2 separate regions of the Homo sapiens genome follow, and region 1 is linked to region 2. The links come from fine-mapping of genetic effects on gene expression. A gene starts in region 2. The other region holds a variant in brackets. All regions are shown on one strand. Distances are from middle to middle. Region 1 overlaps CYP7B1 (cytochrome P450 family 7 subfamily B member 1). Region 2 holds the start of CYP7B1 (cytochrome P450 family 7 subfamily B member 1).

Evidence for each region. PIP is the estimated chance that this variant, and not a neighbour inherited with it, causes the effect.
Region 1: its variant is the best candidate, but not a certain one, in a credible set for the expression of CYP7B1 in adrenal gland (GTEx, PIP 0.84).

Annotation. Positions count from the first base shown.
Region 1 is chr8:64,698,044-64,706,043 of GRCh38, forward strand. The region is part of intron 1 of CYP7B1 (cytochrome P450 family 7 subfamily B member 1); the gene reads right to left. Among named protein-coding and RNA genes, the nearest start is that of CYP7B1, 97 kb to the right of the region's middle. The variant T/C (reference allele first, on the strand shown) is at 3,232.
Region 2 is chr8:64,794,747-64,802,746 of GRCh38, forward strand. It overlaps CYP7B1 (cytochrome P450 family 7 subfamily B member 1), which reads right to left and starts at 3,991. Exons shown (of 6, transcript NM_004820.5): 1 at 3,720-3,991. The coding sequence starts at 3,841. It overlaps LOC105375879 (a long non-coding RNA gene), which reads left to right and starts at 4,035. Exons shown (of 3, transcript XR_928992.3): 1 at 4,035-4,351. It overlaps LOC105375878 (a long non-coding RNA gene), which reads right to left. Exons shown (of 4, transcript NR_188111.1): 3 at 7,622-7,739; 4 at 5,853-6,780. RefSeq lists silencers at 3,789-3,898, 3,909-3,958.

The sequences.
Region 1 (8,000 bases), 97 kb before region 2:
CAACGTATACAAGAGTGAAAAACATAAAATTCCACCAGTTTTCCAATGTCTCATGCTTTCGAATTTATTTTTTAAAGTCCTAACACATGATGGGTGATAGAAGCTTCTTTTTACTGTCAGAGAGATCAAAGAGAGGTTGAGAAAGAATCCATAAGCAGATGCTGCCCAGTGACAAACCTGAAAGAAGCAGACAGTGGGGCCAGATGTTGGAGTGACCTTTGGTCTGCAGATCACGTTGGCATGGTGTTGATTTAGATAGTTGTTGGCAGAAGCTTTAGCTCCAGCAGCAGGGGGGGGAAAAAAACTAAACTACGGAATTCTTTCCTACTCTTTCCCCTCACTAGAAAACCCAAAACCACTGGTCAGTAGTGCTGATGGCTGTCAAAGAAGTTGAATTCACCACGCGACCCTGCCAGTAGGTATCACATCAAAAGGGAGTTAGCTGAGTGAGTAAGAACATCTTCAGGCTGTGCCATTTTGCATCCCACTCAACTTTTAACAGCTGTTTCTTGAGTGAATACAGACACAAAATAATTATATGAAAAGGACAACATATTCAATATGCGAGATGATATTTACAGTTATTACTTAGTCATTGATAGAAGAGTCAACCAGGAAAAATGCTGGCACATCTGAAACCTGAATGACCTGTTATAATTAGCACCCAGTGAAAGTTCCCTTAAGTTGAACTCTGAACTGTACACTCTGAAGACAGCACAGGAAGTAGGTTTTCATTAAAAAGAATGACCCAAATTAGTACTGAAGAAACAAAAAAATATATAATGGTGTGTTATAGTTTTAAAGACTCCTATCACATTATGTGATTATCCTGATCATTCACTCATTAGAAATTTAAAGGATTTTTTTCTAGTGACCCTAAGGTTCTTAATATTGCAAACACTTGTAAATAAGCCAGATGCCCTCTAATCATAGGTTCTGACAGAATTTTAAATTTCAGCCATCATACAATGCTGCAACACAGTACTTAAATGGAAGCTTGCTTTATAGTATTAGAGATGATTGCAGGCCACATAGTTCTTCTGACACTTTTAGACATTTTGTCACTTTACCTGGAGAAATATACACTGCTTATTCTAAATTGCTGCTGATGTCCAGCACTTGTCAAAACCTCTATCTGTCAAGGCCTTCACAAAGAGTTGAAAAATGACAGATCAGGATGTCTGAGTTGATGGAGCCCCAGGAAAAATGGAACAGATAGAAAATTCATGACTCTAAACTACATCAAAGTGACTTCTGTCAACATCATGTCAAAAGAACTGTTCATTTTTAGAGGTTTTTTTAAAATTATATAAACACTTTTTTGAGTATGAGCTAAGTGTAATGAAAAAATTTTCTTGGTGTACAGTATGATCATCCAAATGTTCCAAAAATACACTTTAGATCATCCAGGAATAAGGAAAATTCTAATAGTAGATACTGTCTGCCAGTTAAAACCAATGACATTCAAGAGAGATGTATGAAGTTACTATCAGCTTAAAATAGGACAAACCATCTGGCTATAAAGGAACAAAAGTATATTTTTTGCATATTTTTGAACACATCAAATTTCTACAACTGGATTAATTTTTTATTCTTCTACAATCAGTTTTGTTCCATTTTTTGCTTAGTGTGACAACTGCAAAGCACTAATTCAGTGTTATTTTCCTAAACAGGTTTCCTAAAATAGCTAGCATTATTTTAATTTTAAAAAAAATTACTGGAAAACCCTCATAATGCATAATTCCCTTAAATTATTGCTTTCAGAAGGAAGTAAAAAAATAAATGGCTTATGTTATGCAGTACTGCATACACAGAACCACTCCATAATCACATTCAAGGAGTCATTCACTGAATGAAATATGAGTTGCATCAATCTGGAAATGACCACTCTCCCATTTTAATTCCCAACACCTTTTCAGGGAGGATGGCTGGCACCTGGTGCTAGAACCCAGACAACTTGAGTCCCACTGCTCATATGTCACTGAGATAAATAGGATAAGTGACCTTGTGAGGACAAAACTGTAGAATGTGCTGTGTGCATATATACTGAGCAGACAGTGGGGACGACGCATAGAATTCACCATGCACACACATCAAGCACACATGTGCAGAGTCACACACACTTAAAAGAGCAATCAAACATGAGCAACTTCCACAGTCACCATAACCGGCCCTAACACAGCAACACTGTCAATCATTTATACCATCCATTTGGCAATTTTGACATCAGTCCTTTCTAACAACCACCAGGACAGGGACCATCTATGATCCTAGTAACGGTGGCCACTAATTCACTGCACTTGTCCAGTGGCACAAAAGGTCCATTATCTGTGACCAGAAAAGTTTGCTTATGTCCAGAATGATGTCAGATCTCAAAAATAACAAGCACTTCCAGTTTTGAGAGAAGCTTGCTTCCCATAGCATTGTGTCAAACTATGTATGGGAAGTACCATCTATTAGGACAAAAAAGTAGGACAAGATCACTATCTCTTATTATAGGCAGAACTCAATATATCTTTTGTTCTACTTACAAAAAAGATGTTTATTACCTGTAAGTGTACAGAGGTGTGGACTTCATGGGAGTCGTGATTGGTAATAAGCCTCTTTTTCTCATTTACATTGATAGCAAGCATTAGTGAAGATATATGCATTTCATTTCATGGTTCAGAAAGAACAAAGTATATGTATATGTGATAGCAGTGGGTGGTTAATGAAATGGTCTGACAAACATAAGCTAATACATAATCATACCAGAATGTGACTGGAACACCTGTTCCTGCTTCACACACTTCCAATTCTTAAGGAAAAGTTACCATTCTGAAGAACTGAAGCCACCACTATTTAGACATCAATATGCTCCAAGGAAATTTTAGTCACTTTTTGTTGTTGTTGTTGTTGTTGTTGCAATCACTAAAAGGTGGCTATTTTAATGATATCAAATCTTTTTTGCTTGTGTCCTAAGAGTAATGAAAACTTCACACATGCATGAAGCTCCAGTAATTATTTTAAACTGCCTTCTGTTGTCCCCCTGAGGAACACGGTGGTATTTGTTTGATGCAGTTTAATTAGTGTCAGGGTAATTAATGCTATGCTATCTACATGAGATCAAAACCCTTTCTTTGTAACACTCTGGTAACTAAGAACTAAGAAAAGGAAGCATTTTGAAAACGTCGAGGCATGGTGTTAACCTGGGTTCACCAGTGAACCCAGTTCTCATCTCTTCCTCCACAC[T/C]TCACCCAAATGGCAATTTCAGTCTCTCCCAGGATAAGATCATGCCCGTAATGCATTGGAACCACACTGCCAGGTATAAGACCCACTGGCTGCTATGGAATTAAACTCTTTCTTTATGGGCATAATCAAATTAACTAAAACATTCATGGTCACCAGGCAGCTTTTGCTGTAGTTTAATCCTTTAATAATGAAATAGTAAACTTTTGCACTGACAGAGAACTAGAGGCCCTTGTAAGCAGGGTGTGATATTACCATGTGCTGATATATTTTTTCAAATAAAAGAATCATTTGGTTTAATGAATGAATGTGATTCTGCTTAAATGCCTGAATAAAATTTGCATTTAATTGTAGGTATAGATAGTCTCTCTATTTGACGATAATGTTAAGAGAGGAAAAAACAGAGATAGGCAAGGAGAGAAGTTAAATACACAAAAATTCCAGACACACACATAACGGGCACTACCATAAATCCTTTTTAACTGTTTCTTTGGTAATAAGCAACGGCAGTATAAACCTCCCAACACACAAACTCAAGCTGATCACAGGCTTAAGGAAATAACTCCAGTTATCTTGACTAGATAAATTATTATATCACAGAGGTTATTCCAGTTTCTAATAAAGCACTGTAGCTAACAAACAAAAATAAAAAGACCAACCATTCTCTTTATTTTATAACAGATGAAATTACAGGCTGCATGGGATCGACACAATGGCATTGAATTTATTTTTACTCTAAAAAATGCACCATGCAATGTTCATTTTGGAACACGACCGGTGCTTTAACACAATGAGGAGAACCAGCATTAGACTGATAATATTTTTTATGGGAAGGGGAGGCTTTAATGGCACATATCTAACAAATAAACATGACTGGTTTTAAGTCAAACCAAATGGACTTAGCCCATTATAGAACTATACTAAGCATGAAAATAACCTCTGCACTGCACAAGAAATGAACAAAGAAAAACACTTCTAGAGGGTAAAAACATTAACTCTATAGTAGTTATGAAATTGTGTCAGTATCCATCAGCAGCTGAAATTAAGGTTAATGTTATAAAATGAGATTTCACTAGCTTAGGCTGGCAGCGTATCACAACCTGAAAGGGTCTGTGCTGAATGCATCTTCTTGAGGTCATTCATTACTGAAAACCTACTGGGATCAGCTGACTAGCAAAATATGTTTTTTCACATCTTCAGTTCTGCTTCCTGTGACTTCGTTGTTTATCAATTAAAGTGATAAATACAAGTGACTTTGATAACACCAGAAACACATTATGTAGTAAAGTAACCTCCAGGAACCCTGCAATAAGAACTGTGTGCAAAGTTCAACAACTGTGAAGGAACTATTGAAGAGGACACACAAACAAGTGACCTTGACTGACAAGCGCGCTTCATTCCAGCAATAAACAGCGGTGGTGCTGATAACTGTTCATTGGCGCAGAGAGTAATTACCTATCTGTCAGCGTTGCTGGTGTGTGCGAAATAGTATAAATGAAACATACATAATGTACGGCAATAATATCGGGCATGCAGAACCTAATGTATTATCATCATTCTCAGGACCCAGGTTTATGTGGTTGCCACCACTGAGTAAATGCCTTCTAGCCATGATAATTTCATTCTAATCTCTGTTCCATATTATAATTTTCATAGCTAAAAGATACTAAGGAGCAATACGTTTCAATCAAGGGCTAAATAGAACACAACCTATAACTGGGTATTTTATACATCTATATTTTTTTTCTTTCAAAAAATTTAGTCAATTTATGAAGAGACTGGAATAAGCTGTAAATTTATGAGTGACAAACCCTGTCTGTACCAATGTCACCATGCCTAGAGATGGGGTGAAAGGGCCTTATGAACGGGTTGTCAGCTTTGTCTCACATTTCTTTCAACAATACGAAATTCTATCTTTTTAAATGCTTCTATTCTGTTCCAAAACAGAAGGTAAGGATGCATTTTTAAACAAAATAAAAGACAGCTCCTATTCAAAAGGAGAAAAATAATCATCTAGTTGCTAAGATAAATTATCTTGATTTGCTTGAATTGCTTAATTATACATAAAACGGAAGCACAGCATAACCCCTTACACCATGATATTCTACTCTTCTTATAAAACTGTCTGGCTCTTACATGCTTGGTTTTTTCCTTTAATGAAAATACAATTTGAAGAAACCTCTAAATCATATTTAATACCATACAAAAGAAGCCAGGAAAATATAGGTAGCAGCTAGGCCATCAGGACCAGTTCCTTGTCTGAAGGATGAAACATTAGAAATCCTCACATTAATAGGGTAAACAAACGAAAGAAGCATATCCCAAACTACATAATAGAAACAGCTGTTGGTCAACGGCTCTGTCATTCAGAAAGGGAGGAGAATATATGAATATTTAGAAAACAAACTGACACGTGATTGTTTTAATCTGGTTCTCTCTTTACAACAAGACAAAATATTTTGGAAACTTTTAGATAGCATGAAATAATAATCAATACAACAGTCTATCTTTTAAAAAAGAGCATTTAAATTGATTGTCCAATGTCACATTTTGAAGATCACAGACATGAGCGATTTGAACTATAGAAGGACTTCATCTTCATCCTTTGGCTTTTTCTTTGCTGGTTTCTCAAAGTTGTTTTCTCAAGTGAATATTGTGGGTAATAAATGATGTCCTGACAGGAGATTAGACAAAGCAGAGAAACAGCTCAAGTTTTTCTTCAGGGTTATCCTTTTGTTTGCTGCACTTTTCTTTCTATATGCCTAGTCAGGACAGAAAGCAATAAAAAACTAACCCATGATAAGTTGTTAGAAGTATGATGTGTTAACTCTCAAAGAAGCATTTCTATTTTTAAAAAGAGGAAAGGCAGAGATAATCCATGGCAGGAAGAAATAAAAACTCTTTTTTTAACTTCCTCAGATCATGACATTAAATAGCTTGTCTATTTTACCCATGTGTCAGCTGACTTCATTGTATGGCTAGCCCAGTACAGAAAAGATTTTTACCCAATTTCAAGTCATTCAATCAAACCTGGCATTCCAGGATACTCTTTCTAAAGAGGCAATATCTGGTAGATGAATAATGTCTATAAATTCCACAGATATATCTTAATCATCTCAGTGGGTTCCCCATTTAATTCATATAATATGACTTTCCTAAGTAACATCTCAATGTGTAGCATTATATGTGTTTTGCATGCAGGTTTAAAAATATAATATGTATCAGAACATAGAAAATTGTCAGGAAAAGGTATAACCTTATTTCATTGATTCTAAGAACAGTAGCACATTTGTTTTTTACATCTTTGCCTCTTTGAAATAGCTTCTTATAGTCTCTGAAAGCCAGGTGGTAAGATCAAGACTGCTCTAACATCAAAGCAGAAAAGTCTTAGACATACCTCTTGACTTTTGCATTCAGGGATATATAACATTTCATGCTGTTCTGGCTTTGAGAAATATCTGTTACACATTTATCTTAAAATGGTCTTGATCACAACTATCACATCTTAAAAAATATCCAACAAAATAATATATTTATTTTATGCTGACATCTAGAGTATGTCTGTGTGGCATGAAAATATCTACTTAATCAATTAAATCAACAACCAGTTGACTTATTGGGGGAAAAAATCAACTACACTTACTTAGTTCCACTGACTCTATTAGGATCATAAGGACCTTGCGTTAGATGTGTTTAGACATTATCTCTGTGGCCTACTCAGTAATTACCTATGATCCCATTTACTGATAATTCTCAACCTAGGAATGGGCAGACAGCCAAGGAACTCTTTCAGTCATTCCCAGCTCTGGCAAAGGGATAAGTCACCTCCTCCTTTTATCTGAGAAGCACTTCCTCGGGGCCAAGTGTATCAGGTGGGTTGTATCTTATCACTCTGATATGTTAGGGCGGTAAAAAGCAAGAACCAGTGGAGAATATAATCTGCATAATTCAAAAAGGTGGGGGGGGGAATCACCACCTTTTCATAATTTTCTCAAATATCCCCAAGGATATTTATCTACAGCCGTGATTAGAATTTAAGTTGTTTATTGTCTCATAATATGTCAGAAAATTGCTATTGCATTTCAGTCATTATTCTCATTGTCTAAAACATCACTTTTTTCAACATAGATGTGTTAAATAAATGAATGAATGACTGAATCAATGAGTGAATGAATGGTATTCTCCAATTCAGATTAGTTATTTTATGAAATCATATATCCTAATTTGATGTTGCAAAGTCCATGCCAAAAAAAAAAAATCTCAAAACATTAAGCACAAAGCACTCTCTTTATCATGTCCTTTGGTTTTTATAAGATTTTTTGGGGGTGAGGGGAGTAATAGAATTACTTAGAATTGACGGTTTTGCAGTTAAGGTACACTTTTAAATCAGAAATTAACTTTTAATATATGGCTTGGTGATGATAATACTGAAGTATGTAAAGTGCAGTTGCCTTCTTATAGGCAATATACTTGATTAATTTTGAACAATTTAACAGTGAAAGATTAATTAAAAATTTCATCCAGTACAGGCCATCTTTCTTTTCCAATTACATTCCTTTAGAGCGGCCATAACTGTTTTAATAATTGCACTGAAAATGCTAGAAAGTATCAAGATAATACAGTGATTCAGTGAGAACAATAAAATTCAGAAAGATGGCACTTTGGTATTTAGAGCATTTAACATTGTGGTGTATAAGCCCTCTGAACTCCAACGGGTTATTTTAACCAAGAAGGTCTAAACTGAGCCTTAATTTTTTTTTATTTACATAAGA
Region 2 (8,000 bases):
CATCACCAAAGAAGAGAGAATCTGTAAATATCTCAAGCTTTTCATAGATTCACCTTGACAAAGAGTAAAACTAAGCTTCCATGAGTTCAGAATAATTAGCCAGAAATGTATCTGCGTGCTAAAACAAAAATCAACACTTCATAGGAAAAAAACAAAATCCAAAATCCAGAAAGATAGTGCTTCCAATCAATAGACTGGCATTATTAAATACTGGCAAGGATGTGGAGCAACGTAAACCCTCATGTATTACTGGCGGAAGTGTTCAGAAAAAAAAAAGCAACAATTACTTCGAAAAGTGTCAATTTTCCGAAATGGTTGTGGATAGAAAACTCTATATTCTATGCCCCTCAATCTTCTCTCAATCAATATGTTATATATATTACAAACCACAATTAAATAGAATGAATGAACTAATGATAGATACAACAACATGAGTGAATCTTAAAATCATTATGTTGAGAGAAATAAGTTATACGCAAAAAAGGATACTGTATAATCCCATTTATATGAAGTTTGAGAATGAGCAAAACTGACTCAGAACTCGGGTAGGAACTGACTAGAAAGGAGTGTAAAATATTTTCCTCTTTCTCCGCCAGGCTCAGTTTCCATAAGGAGAGTGGCCCAGGCCCTCCTCTTCTCCATCAAACCCTTTCATCAGGCGATCTCAACTTGTTCTTGCTTTAATTCCCACTTCACATTTATGGCTTTCACAAATATGTATCCTGCCTGGACCTCTCCCCTGAGCTTTTGGTGCTCACTGCCTATTTAACATAACCCAAAGAGAATTATTGATTTCCTCAATTCTCCCAAACCTTCCCTATCTAAGGAAATGATATTACCGTTCACTAAATAATCAGACAAAAAACCCAAAACCAAAAAAAAGGGAAACAAAACTTCTAAGCTTCATTGTTGATTCCCATCTCTCTCACACATCATGTTCAGTCCATTAGTAAATTATGTTGACTCTGCTGTCAAAAATGTATCCTGATTCTAACCACCTTCCATCAACCCCACAGTCACAACCCTAGGCTAAGCCACTGTCATCTCTCCTGACAAGTACTGCAATGGCATCTGTGATTGACAGTCTCACCAGATAATATCCAACAAGGGAAAAGACAATTTCACAAAAGGAAATCAAAGTACTGTAGCCAAAAGAGGTGGAATTGGTAAGTGTCTGAAGGGAACAAATGACCTCTGAATTGATTTTTACCGATTGTTAAAAATTTTTTTACCATTTTTATAGGTAATATTTAAATTTTTACTTTGGAACATCTGGCATTCCTATACTATGCAATATTACAAACTTTTCAGCCATAATTGTTCAAAAGATGAAAATGGAATGAGAATAAAAATGTAATCTATGTATGTATAAAAATCTCTCAATGTGATAATGGAAAACTGTGCTGAATATTTTTATCATGTTAGGAACAAGAAGGGCTTTCTAAGCAAGGACATATATCCAGAAACTCTTAAACAAATGCAAATTACAATAGTAAAAATAATTGCAGCTGGTATGAAAGAGTATGAAAATTCCCATTACATAAGAGTCTTTGCTGATTATATAGAAAAAGAACCCAATAGAAAAATAAATTATTGAAGAAACAGACAATTATTTTCTTTAAAAGTATACAAATTCCTTTAAAAGTAAATACATGAAAATTTGGGATAAAAATGAAGCTGCATTTTCTTTATGTATCAGATTGGCAAAATTAAAATGATTTATAATACCAGTATTGGCAGAATGTGGAGAAATTGGCACTTGCACTACATTAGTAGTAACATAAATTGAGACTTAGAGTAGTTTGGCAACATCTATTAAAACATAAAGCACACATACATTTTGATAACAACTCCACCATCTTACATAAATATTTCCACAAAAGCTCAAAGATATCTATGTTTTGTGTGTGTGTTTTTGTGTATCTATGGTGTATATTTATATAATCATTACAAATAATGACTTCTATAAACTGACATAGGAAGGGATCTAAAATGTATTGCAAAGTGGAAAATATAAGGTGCAACACAGGGTATATTTCCCCACGATTTTTATTAACATATATTCATGCATATTAGCATAAGCTTTAAAAAATCTGTAAGAATATATCAGGGACTCTTAACCATGTTTCTGTTCTTAGAGGTGATATCTGAAAAATCATTTTCGTAGAGCATTAGGGTAAACTATCCAAACATTAGAAATAAGGAACATGACTCTGTACTGGGACAAATGAAGCTATCTTCTATACACTGAAATGCAGTATAATCAAAGTAGTGTCCTATAGATTTGGGGCATTAAACGGTCTTCCTGGTATGAAGGAATTGGCAGTTGATGGCATGAATATCTCAGTAAAATAATTTTTCATGATATAGAGAAAGATCAGCCTATTCTCAGAATGCTAGAAGAGAAAGCCTACCTTGCCCTTTTGCCTTCCTGTCCCTCAAGTTCCACATTCTCACACCAATCACCTTCACTGATCTAAACTGCCCTAGTCAGCTTGTCTGTTTCTACCCTGCATGTAAAGTGGGAATAGAACCAACAGCCTTCTTTTACCACCTCTCTTTAAAGGCATACCTAGGGGTGCATCTTAACTGGCTTGCAAATGCAAATAGAGACCCTGCAAATAGAGAAGGTGGAACCTACATAGAATCACATACCACTGAAGTTCAAGTGTCCTGAGTCCTCATCTTGGGCTCTAAAGCAAAAGTACAGCCATTGGAAAAGGCAACCTGGAAGCGCACATTCCAGGAACATCTCTGAAAACTGACATGGGAAGAAAGGCAAATACTCCTAGAGTACTCATCTCCAGGCATTCTAGAAATGTCCATAGATATTTGTATGCAGTACAAAGGTGTCACTTCCCCCAAAACTATTGAGAAACAACCTGTATCACACACACATAGATATCTATACATTGATACATATGTATGCAAATATACATACATATATCAATTATCATCCAACAAAATGCATCCGCTTGGTTCTCAAAAGCGATGAACACCAGAGCAGTATGAAAATAGGACCCAGAAAGAAAGGAAAAACAGATTAAACTCAAAGTGAATGATTTTATCTGAACTTCTCTATTTCTACTTCCACAATTCAAATTAAAGTGACACACGTCTAGATTTTGTCATTATTGTGTGTTTTGTTTTGTCCTTATAAAAATGATAGGACAACTGCATAAAATACTCTCCATTAACTCATTTAGTACTCACAAAAATCTCACGAGGCATGTACTATTATTTCAGCTTTCCAAATGAGGTACAGTGAGGTAAACTGAGGAAGAGAGGCACTCAGAGTTATTGTTCACACCATGCACTGGCATTTTCTTGAAACAGTTCTCTTTTAACTGATGAAATTTAAGAATATTCCCCTCCTGAAATGCTCTATGAATTCTAGGCCATAAAATATCAACTCGCAGTGGCAAGGCACACAATGTGTCTGTGATGCATAATGCATACCGCCAACCTAGGGCTTATTACAACTTACGCTGGAGCAGCAAATGGAATTCGGTCCCAAAGCTTTAATATGTACGCGTATGTGTGGGAAAAAGACAGAAGAAGCCTTTGTTATTACAAAGTCCCAAAGGAAGCCAGTACCCCGCAGCAAGTTCTGACTGTCTGCACTGGAAATCATGGAGGGGGACTCCCCTCGCCATCTGGGTCGCGCGCGGCCCGCGGGGCCCAGGGCGCATGCGTGGCCTGGCGGCCGAGGCGCTTACCTGGTGCGCCGGACAAGCAAGCAGAGGGCCAGGAGCAGCAGGGCCGCGGCGAGGGCCAGGCCCGGGAGGCCCAACCGCTCCAGCGAAAAGCGGCCCGTGGCCGCGGACACTTCTCCTGCCATCCGGCGCGCGCTAGGCCGCGGTGGGCAGCCCGGGGTCTGCCTGCGAACAGCGCGGTCGGCGACTCTGCAGCCTGCGGCGGCTTCTCTCGGCGGCGCCCCCTAGTCCAGGGCCGGAGAGGCTGGCCTGCCCGCAGCGCAGACAGGAATGTCACCGTGGTCTCCCAGGCTGAATGACAAAAGTTCGTGGACTGCCCCCTCCCCGCCTATCCTCCACCCACGCGTACCGCCCCGTTCCCCCACCGTTTCCGACCCGGCAGCTTCTGGAAAACAGCGCCCTTGATCCTCCCGGGCAGGAAGAAGGGCCAAGGAAGGGGTTAGAAGGGAAAGAGTTAGGATTTCCCAAGAACCAGCCCTGAAGGCCTGGAGGTGGGGGATTTCGCTTCTTAGTTGGACGGGAGCCCCTTGGGTTCCTCACTTCTTAGCCCGCGCCCTGCGGGAGGAGCGACTCTGCTTGTCCCTCAAGATGCTTGTGAAGGTGCCCGCTGCGCTCTGACACCGGCGATCTCTTAGGTACGACCCAGCGGGGTTGGGCTGGCGGCAGAAACCGGCGGAGTGCGCGACCTCGAACCCGTTTCGCGCCCACCTCCTTCACCCCCTTACATCCTATTTGCTCACAAGTTTTGGTTCAGGCCTGCTGTGTGCAGAGGCGCGTGCCAGAGACACGGAATACAAAGACCTAGGCCGTAAGCCTTTAGAAGTCCCGATGAGGCACACAGTACAGGAAGAGAGTGAGACAGGTAAAAAGAGATTGCAGAACAGCGTGGTAGGGGACGAAAGAGAAGTGGTTCAAGTACTACAGGCTGTACTCAGAAAGAATAAGGGAGAAACTTTTAAAATACCTTTTTCTGAGTAATGACCATCCACTGGGTACTTTACCCACGTTTTTACTTTCTATTTTTAATGTGTATTTTATAGAAGACATAATGAGACTCAGATTAAGTAACTGAACTTGGTTGCTCACTTGATAAATGTTTACCATTCCCACTGATAAATATCGGCCGTTCTAACCACGGTCCTATTCGAGGACTTGTGTGCTCTGTCAATGCAACACTTCTCTGGAATGGGTACAGCAGCTTCAAAACCAATCTCTGGTTTTTTACCCTTCCAGTCCATCATCCCCATTTCCACCTCCCTAAAACACAGACCTCTCCAGCTTTTACTCTGTTCAAAACTCTTAATGGTTGTCTTTGTGACGAAGTCATATCCTCCACCTGCAATGAGAAGCCCTGCACAAATTGTCTTCATTGTACAACTCCCCTCGCCAGAACGGTTCCATATATATACTCAAGCTTGGGCCACCATGTCCCTCATACTCAGCCTGTTCACATTATTAACTTAAAAAATCCATTGTAGTTTTGATTTGCATTTCTCTAATGATCAGTGTCATTGAGCTTTTTTTCATATGCTTGTTGGCCACATGTATTTTGGAAATCAGTGTGGTAGTTCCTCAAAGACAGAACTACCATAGGATCTGGCAATCCCATTACTGTGTATATACCCAAAGGAATATAAATCACTCTGTCATAAAGACACATGCACGCTTATGTTCATTGCAGCACTGTTCACAATAGCAAAGACATGGAATCAACCTAAATGTCCATCAGTGGTAGACTGCATAAAGAAAATGTGGTATATACACCATGAAATTCTATGCAGCCATAAAAAAGAATGAGATCATATCCTTTGCAGGAACATGGATGGAGCTGGGGGCCATTATCCTTAGCAACAGAAAAGCAAATACAGCATGTTCTCACTTATAAGTGGGAGCTAAATGATGAGAACACATGGACACATAGAGGGGAACAACGGATACTGGGGCCTGCTGGAGGGCAGAGTGGGTGAGGAGGGAGACGATCAGAAAAAATGACTAATAATTACTGGGCTTAATAGCTTGGTGATGAAATAATCTGTACAACAAACCCCCATGATGTGAATTTACCTATATAACAAACCTGCACATGTGTCCTAAACTTAAAAGTTAAATACATAAAATAAAAATAAAAATTCACAATTTTTAAGTTTTGAAAAGGAGAGAGGAGACTTTATTTCTTCCAAAGGGTTACAGCCTGCAAGGTGGCCATCCAGGCAAAACTAGAGACAGGCCCTTCAAAGGAGGGCTTGGGGTGGGAGCTTTATGCTGAAGAGGTTGGCTAAACATATATATTTAACTGGTTACAGGAGGAGCTATGAATATTCATGAAGGTGGTCCTGACACATGCCTATTGAACAAACATGCACGTAACATATGACCCATGTTCACTTTGGGGTGGCTACTTAACATTTAAATGTGCTACAGTTATGCTTTATATATCAAAAGATCATTTTACATACAAAGGTAGGTAAGTGTGTAATCTCTGTAAACTGGCAAAACCAGTCAATGGTCAGTGGTCTTCTTAATCAGGAGAAAGTTACTGAAACCAGACTCTTGTCCAATCAAAGCTGTAGTTATGGCTTGTGGAACAGCAGGGTCAGTTAGCATCTGATGGTGGATGAGCTGTGACTTTTAATGTTGCAAATCCTGAGGCCAGTGCTTTTTTAGTTGCTAGAGTGAATAACCTTGTGGTGGTTAGAACATAGTATATATTTTAAGTTTTACTGTCCATGGTTCTAAAGCTGTGAATGGCTAGATTAGCCCCAGAATCTTGATGTTTACGAGCCTCTTTGTCTTTGACTTCTATTCCAGAGTCTGTCTCCTGCCTCTCCTTTCTCCTGTTGTACATTGAATTTTCCAGGCAGTCCAAAATATTGCAGTAAACTGACAGCCACTCTGTCTCTTCCAAGAGAAAACAAATTGAGTGCTTTCCGTCACTGCTGGGACAGCAGAGCCAGTTTACAGGAGGGAGTCCATGCTGGGGCATTTCTGTAACCACTGCAGAGAGCCACTCACTGATTTTCAGAAGAAGTCTCAATCCTCATACTTCTGTTTTCCCCTAGATGACCTTTGTTTAAAAATATAATTAAAATACTAAGAATTCATTCTACTTACTGAACATTTATTATTTGCCAGACACCATACCAAACATATTATTTTATCACATTAATAACAGCAAAAACCCATGGTTGATTGCCCTGCCTTAGAGAAGTGGAAGGAAGAAGCCTGCATAGTTATTTACCAGATTTGGTTTGCAACTGTATCATATTCCTATGTTATCTGCACAGTGGCTTACTTGGGACACTTTATTATATATATGCAATACATCTTAAATATATATTTCTTTTGGGTTTTCCACTTTTATTAAAAGGGACCTTCGCTCTATAACCAGATTAAAACAATCTAAAGATACCTTTTATTTTTCTTTTACTTTCATGGTGGCTCATTATTAGCCTCATTATATTCAATCCAGTTCAATTCAGTTTTAACGCCAAAGTATACCATTATCCCCATCACCTCTCTGACAGAGATTGCCGGTTGACCCTCCATATCTGCTCACCCCTTCCTCCTCAGTAACAGAGTCCTCCATTTTTAACTGAACAAATGCCAGTCCATCATAAAGACTACTTCTAGTTAGCTGGGTGTGGTGGTGTACACCTGTAGTCCCAGCTACTTGGCTAATCAGGAGGCTGAAGCAGGAGGATCACTTTGAGCCCACCGAGGACTTAGAGGCCACAGTGAGCTATCATCAGAGTACACTACTGTACACTCCAGCCTGAGCAACAGAGCAAGAAACCCTGTCTCTCTCAAAAGAAGGAAGGAAGGAAGGCAGGCAGGCAGGCAGGCGGGCAATATAGTGAAACTGTCTACTAAAAATACAAAAATTAGCTGGGCATGGTGGCACGCACCTATAGTTCCAGCTACTCGGGAGGCTGAGGCAGGAGAATCGCTTGAACCTGGGAGGCAGAGGTTGTGGCGAGCCGAGATCACACTACTTCACTTCAGCCTAGGCAACAGAGCAAGACTCTGTCTCAAAAAAAAAAAAAGAAAAGAAAAGAATGAGATGTCACTTCCTTCAAAAAGCTGGGACTAAACACATTAATATTGGATAAAAGAAAGTAAAAAGGCCACTCGAAGGAAGGAAGTAGGGAAGCAGGGAGGGAGGGAGGGGAAGGGAGTGGAGGGGAGGAAGAGGGTGACAGAAAGAAAGAGTAGGGGAAGTAAAGAAAGGGAGAGGGTGACAGATTGTACTTCAGTGACTCACTGCACTAGCCAAGTGACCCTCAT